4 separate regions of the Homo sapiens genome follow, and all the other regions are reported to be linked to region 4. Evidence: microRNA targets listed by miRTarBase, many of them from high-throughput screens and not tested one by one. Region 4 holds a microRNA gene; each other region holds the end of a gene's coding sequence. Distances are between the middles of the regions.

The links. Region 4 holds the annotated microRNA hsa-miR-1825 (UCCAGUGCCCUCCUCUCC, at 2,183-2,200, opposite strand). A microRNA usually pairs through its seed, bases 2 to 8, with sites in the 3' UTR of a target mRNA and lowers its output. Matches are read on the target gene's strand: a 7mer-m8 pairs with bases 2 to 8, a 7mer-A1 pairs with bases 2 to 7 and ends in A, and an 8mer does both.
Region 1: the mRNA of ADA2 is a reported target of hsa-miR-1825. Seed matches in the 3' UTR shown: 7mer-m8 at 1,041-1,047.
Region 2: the mRNA of SNAP25 is a reported target of hsa-miR-1825. The part of its 3' UTR that is shown has no 7-base or 8-base seed match.
Region 3: miRTarBase lists SNRNP48 as a target of hsa-miR-1825. Seed matches in the 3' UTR shown: 7mer-A1 at 2,495-2,501.

What each region holds. Positions count from the first base shown.
Region 1 is chr22:17,178,840-17,182,002 of GRCh38, forward strand. It overlaps ADA2 (adenosine deaminase 2), which reads right to left. Exons shown (of 10, transcript NM_001282225.2): 9 at 2,981-3,163; 10 at 1-2,737. The coding sequence ends at 2,644. Among named protein-coding and RNA genes, the nearest start is that of HDHD5-AS1, 21 kb to the left of the region's middle.
Region 2 is chr20:10,305,828-10,308,990 of GRCh38, reverse strand. SNAP25 (synaptosome associated protein 25) reads right to left here. Exons shown (of 8, transcript NM_130811.4): 8 at 1,573-2,862. The coding sequence ends at 2,794. Among named protein-coding and RNA genes, the nearest start is that of SNAP25-AS1, 88 kb to the right of the region's middle.
Region 3 is chr6:7,608,351-7,611,513 of GRCh38, forward strand. It overlaps SNRNP48 (small nuclear ribonucleoprotein U11/U12 subunit 48), which reads left to right. Exons shown (of 9, transcript NM_152551.4): 9 at 475-3,163. The coding sequence ends at 523. Among named protein-coding and RNA genes, the nearest start is that of SNRNP48, 20 kb to the left of the region's middle.
Region 4 is chr20:32,236,867-32,240,029 of GRCh38, reverse strand. It overlaps MIR1825 (microRNA 1825), which reads right to left and starts at 2,235; the gene lies at 2,183-2,235. POFUT1 (protein O-fucosyltransferase 1) reads right to left here. Exons shown (of 7, transcript NM_015352.2): 7 at 1,372-3,163.

The DNA.
Region 1 (3,163 bases), not on the chromosome of region 4:
AGGCCAGAGGCTGTTTGCGTCTGCCTGTGTTGGAGGTCCCCTGCGCAGTTGGGACCTAAAAGATCTTCAGGGATTGGGTAAGGCACTGAATCACCTGCAGAGTTAGACAGGACCCTAGAGGTTGTCTTCTTCCATCCAGGCACAGCTTATGGTTGCTGTTTTTTCCCAGTTCCAGGAACCAAATGGTGATAAACTAGGAATGGAGAGAGGGCTTGCTGCTGTCTGAGAGCTCAGGTACAGGTCATGGAAGATGGATGAGAGGACATTCGCCTGGGGCTTTTGAGGAATTCTTTGATTCCCTGCCATCCTTGAGTTGGGTGAGGACAGAGGTGGCTTCTTGCATCCTTCTTCCAAGGCCAGGTGAGGAGCTGGACTCTGATCACATGAGGTCTTTTATTTGGGGCGGCTCTGCTCTACTCCCCTCTGCCTTGGCAGCTGGCTGAACAGACACAGTGACAGCCACTCATTCAATGCATTGTTTATTGAGTACTAACTAGCTTTGGGCCCAGGCTCTGGGTTAGCAGCATGCGTGAAACAATCAGAAACAATCATGAGCGCCTGCCCACATGGGGCATACAGTCTGGCAGGGCAAGACTGTAGACACAGAAATAAATATCCGATTATAAGCTGTGATTAGAGGCATGATGGAAAAGAGCAAGGCTTCCTGAGAGAAACAGGGCGAGCACAGGAAAACCTCTCTGAGACAGTGACATGAACTTGAAACTTGAAGGGTAAACAGGAGTGGGCAAGACAAAAGGGGAAAGAAGGAATCTTCCAGGCAGAGAGAAAGAGAAAAGACCCAGGCACGGTATAGAGCCGAGGACATTTGAGGAAGAAAGGGCCGCCGGGGTTGGGGCCCTCTGGGTGACTGGGAGAGGAAGGCGCCGGAATGGATCCAGATTAAATCGGATGCTGTATGCCCTGTGGAGACATGGGGTGTACCTCTAAACGCACTGCGTTGTAAGCAAAGGAGTGACCTGATTTAATTTGATCTTTTAAAAGTCATTCTAGGCCAGGCCGGGTGGCTCACGCCTGTAATCCCAGTGCTTTGGGAGGCCGAGGCGGGTGGACCACGAGGTCAGGTGTTCGAGACCAGCCTGGCCAACATAGTGAAACCCCATCTCTACTAAAAATACAAAAATTATCCGGGCATGGTGGTGCATGCCTGTAATCCCAGCTACTCAGGAGGCTGAGGCACGAGAATCCGCTTGAACCCGGGAGGTGGAGGTTGCAGTGAGCCGAGATCGCACCGCTGCACTCCACCCTGGGCAACAGAGCGAGACTCCATCTCAAACAAAACAAAACAAACAAACAAAATGTCATTCTACACTGTGAAAAATGAGCTGGAGGAGGCAAAGGGAAGAAAGGGGAGATCAGTGAGGAGGCTGTTGTCATAGCTCAGGCAGGAGTATGGTAGCTTGGACTTGGCAACAGCGTGCAGGTAGAGCACCACCGCTGGAGTCTGGATGCGGGATGCATTCTGATGTAGGGAGTGGGGGACCGCGCAGCATCAAGAAGCCACCGCTGGAGTCCAGATGAGGGATGCGTTCTGATGTAGGGAGTGGGGGACGGCGCAGCATCAAGACTTGCACTGAAAATTTCTGCTTTGAGCAACTGCGTGGAATGGATGGAGGTGTCCTTCACCAGCTATGGGAAAGGCCAGGGAAAGGTTTAAAGGGCTGAGTGTGGTGGCTCATGTCAGTAATCCCAGCACTTCGGGAGACTGCGGCAGGAGGATCACTTGAGTTGGAGACCAGCCTGGGCAACATAGCAAGACACTCTTTAGAAAAATTAAAGTAGAGAAAAAGAAAGGTTTAAAGGGAAGAGACTGAGGGTTCAGAATTGTACCTCATCAGTTTCTGAGATTCCTGTGAGCTCTCCAAGTGCATAAATAAATGTGGGAATCATTAACAAATAAATGGTATGAAAAAGCAAAGGAATGGATGAGACCACCCAGGAAAAGTGTACAGAGAGAGAAGAGAAATAAAGAGGAGAGAGTTAAAGAGACCAGAATAGGCCAGGCATGGTGGCTAATGCCTGTAATTCCAGCACTTTGGGAGCCAAGGGGCGAGTGGATCACCTGAGGTCAAGAGTTGGATACCAGCCTCGCCAACATGGTGAAAACCTGTCTCTACTAAAAATGCAAAAATCAGCTGGGTGTGGTGGCACATGCCTATAATTCCAACTACTCGCGAGGCTGATGCAAGAGAATTGCCTGAACCCGGGTGGCGGAGGTTGCACTGAGCTGAGATCGCACCATTGTACTCCAGCCTGGGCAACAAGAGCAAAACTCCATCTCGAAAAAATACAAAAATAAAAAAATAAAGAGACCAGAATAGAAGAGAGCCCAGGACTGAGTCCTGAGGAAACAGCACAGAGATCAGAGAGAGGAGAAGACTCTGAAATAGGGAAACTGGAAGAAATGGCCAGAGACAGGAGAAAACCAAGAGGGTCAATGTCACTGTGGCTGAGAGAGAATATTTCCAGAGGATGAATTTGCTCAGCCAGCCAAGTGCTTCTCACAGGGTCGCTCCATACAGAGGCCATTGATTTCATGGGCACATGGAGCTGATTCAAGAACGAGTGAGAGGAAGTGACAGCGTGTGCAAGAAGACAGCTTGTAGAGGGCTGGCTAGCTTCTCCTCACTTTGTAGCCACATCTGCTATGAACTTATCCCATCTCTTCTTCCAGATTTCCATGAAAGTATTTTTCTCACTCTCCAACAGGGTACTGTACCTGCAGGAAGAGGAGGAGCCCAGGTCAGCCTCAGGGCAGGGGTTGGGGAACGGGGCAGGGAGCCTGAGAGGACATTAGAGCCTTGCAGAGCACTCTCCCCAGGCCAGCAGCAAGGACTAAACAGCCATGATGAGAAGGAACCCACAGGAACCATCGAGGCATCTGCCTCAAGCCTCCAGAGAGGCAAACACAAGCTGCGGGCTGGAAGGAGGCGGGGGACCTGGGAGGACACAGGACACTCACTTGATAGAGTTCATGGCCAGCTGTTTGAGGGTCCTCAGGTCAGCCTTCATCCCCCCAATGCCCATGAAGACCTCATAGAAATCATAGGACAAGCCTTTGGCACCAAACATAGCTGGGTCATCAGAGCTGATCACCATGGGGTGCCCAGTGGCCATCAGAGTGGCTACAGGGTGGTTCCTCAAG
Region 2 (3,163 bases), 22 Mb from region 4:
GGTGGCAGAGGTGATGGAAGTGATGATGATGATGTTGGCAGAGGAGATGGATGGTCAGGTGGTGGTGGTGATGGTGGCAGTGGGAGCGGTGGTGGTGATGGAGGTGATGATGGTGATTATAATGGTGGTGGTAATAAAGGTGGAGGTAATGGGCATGCTGGTTAAGATGGTGTGGAGGTGGTAGAGCCAGTGGAAAAGGTAAGGTGGTGATAATTGAGGCAGTGGTGGTGTTAGTAGGAGTAGGGATAGTGATGGTGGAGGTGATGGCGGTGGAGGTGTTAGTGGTGGTTGTGGTGGGACAGGCAATGATGTTGGTAAAACTGTGGGGCAAGTGAATAAAAAATCTTATGTCTACACAAAAACTTTTACATCAATGTTCATAGCAGCATTATTCATAATAGTCAAAAAGTGGCCAGGCGTGGTGGCTCATGCCTGTAATCCTAGCACTTTGGGAGGCCAAGGCAGGTGGATCACCTGAGGTCAGGAGTTTGAGACCAGCCTGGACAACATGGTGAAACCTACTCTCTACTAAAAATACAAAAAAAAAAAAAAAAAAAAAAAAAAAAAAGCTGGGCGTGGTGACAGGCGCCTGTAATCCCAGCTACTTGGGAGGCTGAGGAAGGATAAGCACTTGAACCGGAAGGTAGAGGTTGTAGTGAGCCGAGATCATGCCACTGCACTCCAACCTGAGCGACAGAGCAAGATTCTGTCTCAAAAAAAAAAAAAAAAAAAAGTCAAAAAGCAGAAACAATGCAAATATTCATAACCTGATACATGGATAAACAAAATAGTATCTATGCATACAATAGAATATTATTTGGCCTTAAAAAAGAATGAAGTACTGATCTGTGATACAACATGGAGGAACCTTGAAAACATTATATTAAGTGAAAGAAGCCAGTTCCCGAAGACCACACATTGTATGATGCCATTTATATGAAATGTATAGGCAAATCTATAGAGATAACTAGTAAACCAGTAATTCCCTAGGGCTGGGAGAAGTGAGATGGGAGTGATTGCTAATAGGTATGGGGTATTTTGGCGGCAGTGATAAAGATGTTCTAAAATTAGATTGCTACCTCAGTGAATATACAAAAGAAATTAATTATATATTTAAATGGATGAATTTTATAGTGAGTCAGTAAAGCTGTTTAAAAAAACATGGAGTCAGTGGTGGTGTGGTAGTGAAGCCCTCAATTTTAGATGGTGGGGATTTTGTGGAAAGGAAGGAAGATTGGAGTTGACAGACACCAGATATACCTGAATCTATGTAGGGCCATGCCTGGGTACCATAGATTTTTTTCCTATAAATTTTTCTTTCTATGTGTTCTGGATAACTACATTTTCTCCCTTAGTCAACACTGAATTCACAAAGTAATTCTGGAGCAGGTTATGAGAATCAAGCCAAGTTGTCAGTTGCCACTGGAATCATGCTTAAATCTTCTATTTTCCCCCACACTGTCCTCGGTGCACAGAACTGGCTTTTAGTAGCTGGGATAGGGTAGCCAGGCTTTCTCTTCTCGTGTGAGTGCAAAATCAGACGAGTCCATGAAGAAATTAAAGCAGATCATCTGGAGTCTATAATTTTTAATAATTTTAAACTAGCTACAAAATGTCAATCACTTCACAAACTGACAGAGGAGACAGGAGGAATTTAATATTACATGCTATAATGATATTTATCTCACAGTTTATATTTCATTCATTTATATTATTTTTTTAAAAGGTTTCTTTATCAGCTACTAAACATCTCAGCAATTTGGTGTGCATAGCTCTAGATTAAGCAACAAAGAATTGTACTGATAACAAACCACAGGGGAAATGGTGGTTAGTAAGAGTCAGCCTTATAAAATTTACATCCACACTGTTTCACAGCAAGATTGCTCTCTCCAAAACATAGCCATCAAAAGCAGCAAACAAACCCTATATTACATCCATTTGACATAATTTCAGCCAAACATATATTTTGCTGGAAATGATTAAATGGTGAGTGTGTCAAATCCATCTTTTTTAAAATTCTTTTTTTTAAAAAAGGATGATTATGATTTAGAAGTCTCTATATATTGACAGGAAAAAAGTGACACTACTGCACTTTTGCTGGTATAACTTAATCTTGACAGTGTCTCAATACTGAGCATGCTTTGTTGTTGTTCTGTTGTTGTTGCTGTTGTTTTGTGTGTGTGTGTGTTGTCTCATCAGTATGCTACTGTCATGGAAAGTTTTTGTTTAAGTAGGAATCTAAAAATCTATTTAGTTCTCATGCATAAATGCATAAATCACATCACTTTTAGTGCAATGCCTGTTATGTAATTCCACATTGTCTAATCATGAAATCATAAAGACAGATAACAGCCATGAGGAACCAAAGACGGCACATTTTGAGAGATTCAGAGCCTGACACTCAAAGGACCGTGGCAGTAACTCTGTGGAATGTCACAGTTTTACAAGAACAATACTGTGGATTGAAAGAATCAACAGCACATTGAGCATTCCTAAATTGTTGTTATTCAGCAAATGCCACCGAGGAGAGAAAATGAAAAATGAAACTCAAGACCTCAAGGAGTTAGAGCCACCAAATGACCACTATGTACAACCTTTGGAAAGAAAGAGACCAAGAGAGAACAAAAGACACAAAGTATTGTTGGGAAGCTGACAGATGACACAGGACAACATTCACAATGGGGGTGGACTGATGTGTGTTATGTGTGCAGACCTACTAGATAATACCATGAGAAAAGCATGAAGGAGCTATCTTGCCCGACAGCATTTGGAGGAGAACACGGGTGGGCACACTTAACCACTTCCCAGCATCTTTGTTGCACGTTGGTTGGCCTCATCAATTCTGGTTTTGTTGGAATCAGCCTAGAAAAGGGGGAAAAGAAACAGAACTCAGGTTACCCCTTAAAAATCCATTCACCCTTCTGGGTCCGGGTCCAATGCTTCCTCTTGGGTGAAACCACTTAAAACCTCCTTGGTCAGCATGGGCCATCCTTTCTTTTGTCTTCCCAGAATGACGGCTATGGCTCTATTTGAATGTGACCGTAGAAGCTTAATTTTCATTTTTTTTTTTTAATGAACGAATATATTTTTTCAGAATCATTGCTTTTTTAATTTTCATTTTTAATAATTTTCCCTACCAGAGAGCGTAGGCTTATATATGATT
Region 3 (3,163 bases), not on the chromosome of region 4:
GTTCGAGACCAGCCTGGTCAACATGGTGAAACCCTGACTCTACTAAAAATACAAAAAATAGCCAGGTGTGGTGGTTCGCGCCTGAAATCCAGCTGCTTGGGAGGCTGAGGCAGGAATCGCTTGAATCCGGGAGGCGAAGGTTGCAGTGAGCCAAGATCGTGCCATTTGCGCTCCAGCCTGGGCAACAAGAGTGAAACTCCATCTCAAAAAAACAGAAACAAACAAATAAAAAAACTAAGAGACGAAACTGAAATAGGAATAATCAAAGTGATTTTTTTTTAATTACGCTTTGAAATTCTGCTTTAAAATTAACTTTGAGTATATGTAAATGATAACCAGAAAATTCTTTTCAAATAGAATGTTAAAGTAGCATATTACTGTTGAAAGTGGTGTATTACTGTTGAATTATTTTAAAGCTCTGATATTAAAATGTCCATCATTTATAACCATTTTTTTATACCTCTTTTATTTCAGGGATGGGGAAAGACACCATAGTCATAAAAGAAGAAAGCAAAAAATATAAATGAAGTACTTGTACCTATATTAATTATGCTTACGCCATGATAACCAATATACAGATATATTAATTGGAATTCCTTTGCATAGGAGAATGTTTTTATGATCTGTTTAGTGCTTATTATTTTTTTTATGATCTGTTTAGTGCTTATTATTTTCCAGTAAATATGCTTCAAACCATGAGTACACTATTAGGCCCTACAACTTTGTTTTCCTTATATTTTATTAGATGATTTGCTTCCTATAACTGATGTTGTTTTGTTCGTTTTGCTAATATATGTATCTCAAAATTCTTTAAGTCAATATTTATCATATGTAAATTAAACATGAATACATTCTCATCTTATAACTACATCTTATAAATAAGGCTAATAACCCTTAGAACACCACCTGCGGTTCTGTCCTCACCCCAGTGGTGACTACTGTTTACCACTACACTGGTGAATTGTAGTAGGGAAAAACAATCTAAATATTGAAGAGGAATGGCCTAATTAAAATATGATGTAGTCATAGGATAGATTATTGTATTGGAGTTAAAAGAAATAATCTAGATCCATATTAACCTGGATTGGTCTCAAAAACATAATGCTCAGTGAAAATAGCAAGTTGTAGAAAGTTATATACAAATTATATATATGTACAAAACAATACTATGCATTCTCTATGGCTATATAATGTACGTAAATCTATTTTTAAAGGTTCAGAGGAATCCATACCAAAGTTCTAACAGCGAGTAGGAGGTATAGATGAGAGATTAGGGGTGCAAATCAGGATTGGGAGGGTGGTCAGAGGGAACTTTAGCTTTATCCATAACATTAATTTTTTTAAAAAATAAGGTCTTAATGTTTCATTTAATTTAAAATATACTGTCATGTTGTGTTTTGTAAATCAACTGAATTGAGGTACTATTTACTTAGATTTATTGCACCCTTTTTACGTGTGTATTTTATTGGGTTTTGACAGATTCATACCTCTGTGCAGCCACTATCACGATCAAGATACAAATATTTTCATTGCCCCCAAAATTCTCATACCCCCTTTCCCAATCAATTCCTCTACCCCTAGCCCTAGGCAGCCACAGATTTGCTTTTGGTTACCGATTAGATCTATCCATTGTAGAATTCATGTAAATAGAATACTGTAGTATGTACTTTGCCTTCTTCCTCTCTGCAGATTTTTGAGATTGATCCCTGTGTGTCAGTTGTGCATTTTTTTTGTTGCTGAGTAGTATGTTCTATCTTATGTCAGATCATTCACGTGAGACTTTGGCATGAAATGTTAAGCATCCGACATCTAAATAGCAATATTTTGAATACTGGAAACTCAGGTTAAAGATTTTGTTTCCAAGTAGAAATGAAATCTTATTATTTTAATAAGTAGCTGACAGTGACAGAAAGATTGGATTTGGATCAGATTGGCTGTTAGGCTTCAGGTATGGGAAACAGCTCTCAGATTTATAAATTGGAAATCACCAGGTTACTTGCCAATATATAGTCATATTGCTGCCATTGTACTTAATTTCTAAATATATAAAATCCACATTTAAAAATTATAAAAGCAAGGACTTGGGAGTGACTGATGAATCATGAAATTGCTGCTTTTATAGATCAAAACTACTTGAATCATCAGGAATTTCATATTTTTCATATTGTGTGACAACTTATAATTTTGTTTCAAATTGTGATTTCATTGATTTTACTAACTGGAAGGAAGAAGAGTAAAATTGGCATATTTAGGTTTTTTGTAGAAGAAAGATACAAGTGAAAATTAGGAGTGGATTGGAGAAATTGGGGGGAAATAGAAGAGTACGGAGAAAGGAAGAGATTGAAAATGTTACCAGAGTTCTTTAAAGCTCACATTTTATAGTATCACTGCTACAAACTATTTAATGAAATGTGGCATCGGGTGAAAAGAGGCATTTGTTTGATCCTTGAACGAATTAATCTCACGTACTTCCCTGTTTGTGGTTTGAGCCTTTCACTGGATGTGAGCTACTTGAGAGCAGGGTTTATGCCTTCATCAGCGTGACCCCTGTGCCTGCAGCCTCATAGGTGTTAATCTGTAATTTTAAATTTTGACAAAAGCATTTTCACAGCCCTGCCACATAAGATCTAGTTTTTATTTCTAGAGTGCTGCTATGAATAATTACTATAGCTGCTGTCCATCTTGCCCATCCATTAAGGTACCTTCTCACAAACATTTCTAATCTACTGGCTGGAGTGCAGTGGTGCAGTCTGTAGCTCACTGCAGCCTCAAACTCCTAGGCTCAGGCGATCCTCTTGCCCTGGCCTCCCATGTAGCTGCAACTATAGGTGTGTGCCACTACACCTGGCTAATGTTTTTAGTTTTTTAGAGATGGAGTCTTGCTCTGTTGCCTAGGCTGGTCTTGAACTCCTGGGCTCAGATGATCCTCCTGTCCTCAGCCTCCCAAAATGCTGGGAGCCACCAGGCACCAGGTGTGATCTACCACACCTGTCTAAAAAGTATGTATTTTTAAATTTTTTTGTAGAGACAGGATCTCACTATGTTCTCCAGCTGGTCTCAAGCTCCTGGCCTCGGCCTCCTAAAGTGCTGGGATTACAAGTGTGAGCCACTGTGCCTAGTCACTTTAATTGAGATATTGGCAAGTCAACTGCCATGCAGAGCC
Region 4 (3,163 bases):
TTTCTTCCTCCCTCTGTCCTTTCTCCTCTTTCTTCTTTATTTTCTTATTCTCTCTCCCCTCCCTTCCAAATGTCTGGAGATCTACAATGTTTCAGGACAGTGTTTCCAGCTTTGGTTCCTTTGAACACCAGCTTCTCCATTTCTCTATCCAATCAGATGCAGATTTTGAAAAATGGAATTCCCTTTTAATTTTGAAAAATTGAATTCCCTTTTTTTTTTCCTCTCTTTTGAGACAGGGTCCCACTCCAATGTCCAGGCTGGAGTGCAGTGGTGCCATCACAGCTCACTGTAGCCTCGACCTCCTCCTGGGCTCAAGTGATCCTCCCACCTCAGCCTCCCGAGTAGCTGGGACTACAGATGCATGCCACATGCCTGGCTAATTTTTGCATTTTTTTGTAGAGACGGGGTTTCCCTATGTTACCCAGACTGGTCTCGAACTCCTGGGCTCAAGCGATTGGCCTGTGTCAACCTCCCAAAATGCTAGGATGATGGGAGTGAGCCACTGCGCCCAGGCTTCCCTTCCTTTTCTTATATATAAATTTGGGCTGACCGTAAAACAATGAGATTTGATCATCTGGTTGTAAAGCCCCTACAAATATACAATAGGAGATGTAGGTCAGTACAAACTGGGCAGCAGGCAGTTCCTAAAGCCACCTTGTTGACCATGCCTGGTGGAACCCGTGAGGCTTGCCAGGGAGGGGCTGCAGAGGTCTTCCATTACCGTGGGCTGAATGACCACACAGTGAGATCCCCACTTCCTTCAGATCAGTGTTGCTCAAGTTTTAGCCCCAAGAGAGCTTAAGAGATTCCTGGGCTGCGTCCCCAGAGATCCTGACTCAGTGGTTCTGGGCGGGGGCCTGGGATTCTGCATTTCTAGCAAGTTCCCCCAGGTGATGCTGATGCCGCTGGTCTGACGACCACAGTTTCAGGTCTTGGGCCACTGGGCATCCAAATCACTTGCAGGTGCTTGTGAAAAGGCAGATTCCTGGGCACTACCCCCGAGACATTCTGATTCTCAGGTTCAGGGTGGCTCCTGGGAATCTGCCATATCAACCAGCCCTGGAAGGAACCTCTGAAGACCACCCTTTGGGAAGCACTGCCTAGACCATTAGCACCTGTAATGCTGAGGTGAGGAATGCGGAGGTGAAGGGATTTGCTTCAAGGTCACTCTGCAAGTCAGGGACAACTCCCTGGTGCCTGGGCCCTAAATCTTGGAGCACCCTGGGCTCCTCTTTCCTTCCCAGTCCACATTCAGCATGTCAGCAAATCCTGTTGGCTCTTCTTTCAAAACACATTTAGGTTTTCTTGAAGACTCTAGCAAACAGACTTGGGTGTGGGAGAGTCAATGCAACTAGACTGGTAAAATGTGGGTCATTGTTGAAACTGTGAGTTCATTTTATTACTCACAATTTTTTATTTATATTTGAATTCTTCCATAACAAAAAGTTTTAAGTGTTTGATCTAACAAATTCACTTCTGGGAATTTATCTTAAACAACTTTTTTTTTTTGCTTCCCGTCCAACAACTTTATTAATGAACATTTTAAATAAAGAAAAACTCTTACAAATAAAAATATTTTTTCAAATAACAATAGTGAAAAATTGGGGGCACATGAAGTCTCCTTTTTTTTGAGATGGAGTCTCGCTCTGTTGCCCAGGCTGGAATGCAGTGGCACCATCTCGGCTCACTGCAACCTCCACCTCCCAGGTTCAAGCCATTCTCCTGCCTCAGCCTCCCAAGCAGCTGGGAATACAGGCATGTGCCACCACGCCTGGCTATTATTATTATTTTTTTGTATTTTTAGTAGAGATAATTCACCATGTTGGCCAGGCTGGTCTTGAACTCCTCACCTCAAGTGATCTGCCCACCTCGGCCTCGCAAAGTGCTGGGATTACAGGCATGAGCCACCACACTTGGCCTAAATTCTCATAATAGGAAAACAATAAACTATGGAACACTCCTCGACAGAATTTTTTATAATTAAGAGCATTTATCCAGGCTACATACCAACAGGGAAAACATGATACACTATTAAGTAAAACACTAGGACATTAAATTGTATATATTACATGATTAAAACTATGTAAATATTTGTATCTTTGAAAAAGACTGAAAAATAATTACATATGTTCAGAATCTAATCATTTCCCACCTCCTTCAATGCAATGGCCTTTGTCTCTTGGGAGAGGAGGGCACTGGAGTCCTAGTCTAGGGGAGCCCAGCACCCCAGTCTCTCGCCTGCAACCCTGTTAACAGCCCTGCACTGGTCTCTCTGCTTTCACCCTTTCTCTCTCCAACCTCCTCAGCACTGGCCAGCTAGAGAGGTCCTTCAGAATGTGAATCAGCTCATGCCCCTCTTCTGCTCAGAACCCTAGGAGGCTTCCTGTATCTCTCCAACTAAAAGCTTCCTGCCATGGCCGTCCAGGCTGCAGAATGTCAGCTCGCCTGCTCTGACCTGCTGCTCGGTTCCCTGCCTATGCCTGCCTCTCCAGCCATGCTGGCCTCCTGGCTGCTCTTCAGGAACACACTCCAGTCTCGGGGCCTTTGCACGTGCTGTTTTCTCTGCCAGGAATGTGCTCCCTCCCTCCTTCATGACAGCTCTTCAGAGAGGTCTTACCTGGGCTCATCTAAAATAGATCCACTCCCTCTTTTTGCTCCCAAACCCTTTATATTTCTTTATAGCACTTATTAACATGTCCCACAGTACATTTATTACATCTTCTACTTTCTAGAATGCAAATTCCTTGAGAACAAAGACTTTACGCTTGATTCTCTCCTGTATCCCCAGTACCTAGCATAGAGCCTGACACATAGTAGGTGATGAACAAACACCTGCTGAATGCAAGACTGTTGTACTGAGCAACCATCCAACGGGGGCTGTAAGCGGCATGTAGGCTTTGTTTCTTGGGTAACCTCCCCTCCTTAATCCTTCTGGCATAGGCAGACTCACAGCAGGTACCCAGTAGAAGGTAAGGTGGCTGATCATTTTTCCATAGGAGGTCTCCATGGCACACAGGGTAGAAAGTGCATTCTGTGAATTAGAGGCAGCAGAGCATGGCAGCTAATGGAAACTGGCTCTGGGAGGTCAAATTCTGGCTTAACACCACCAGCTGGGCAGCCTTGGGAAAATTATGACAATTCTCAGGGCATTAATTTTTCCTTG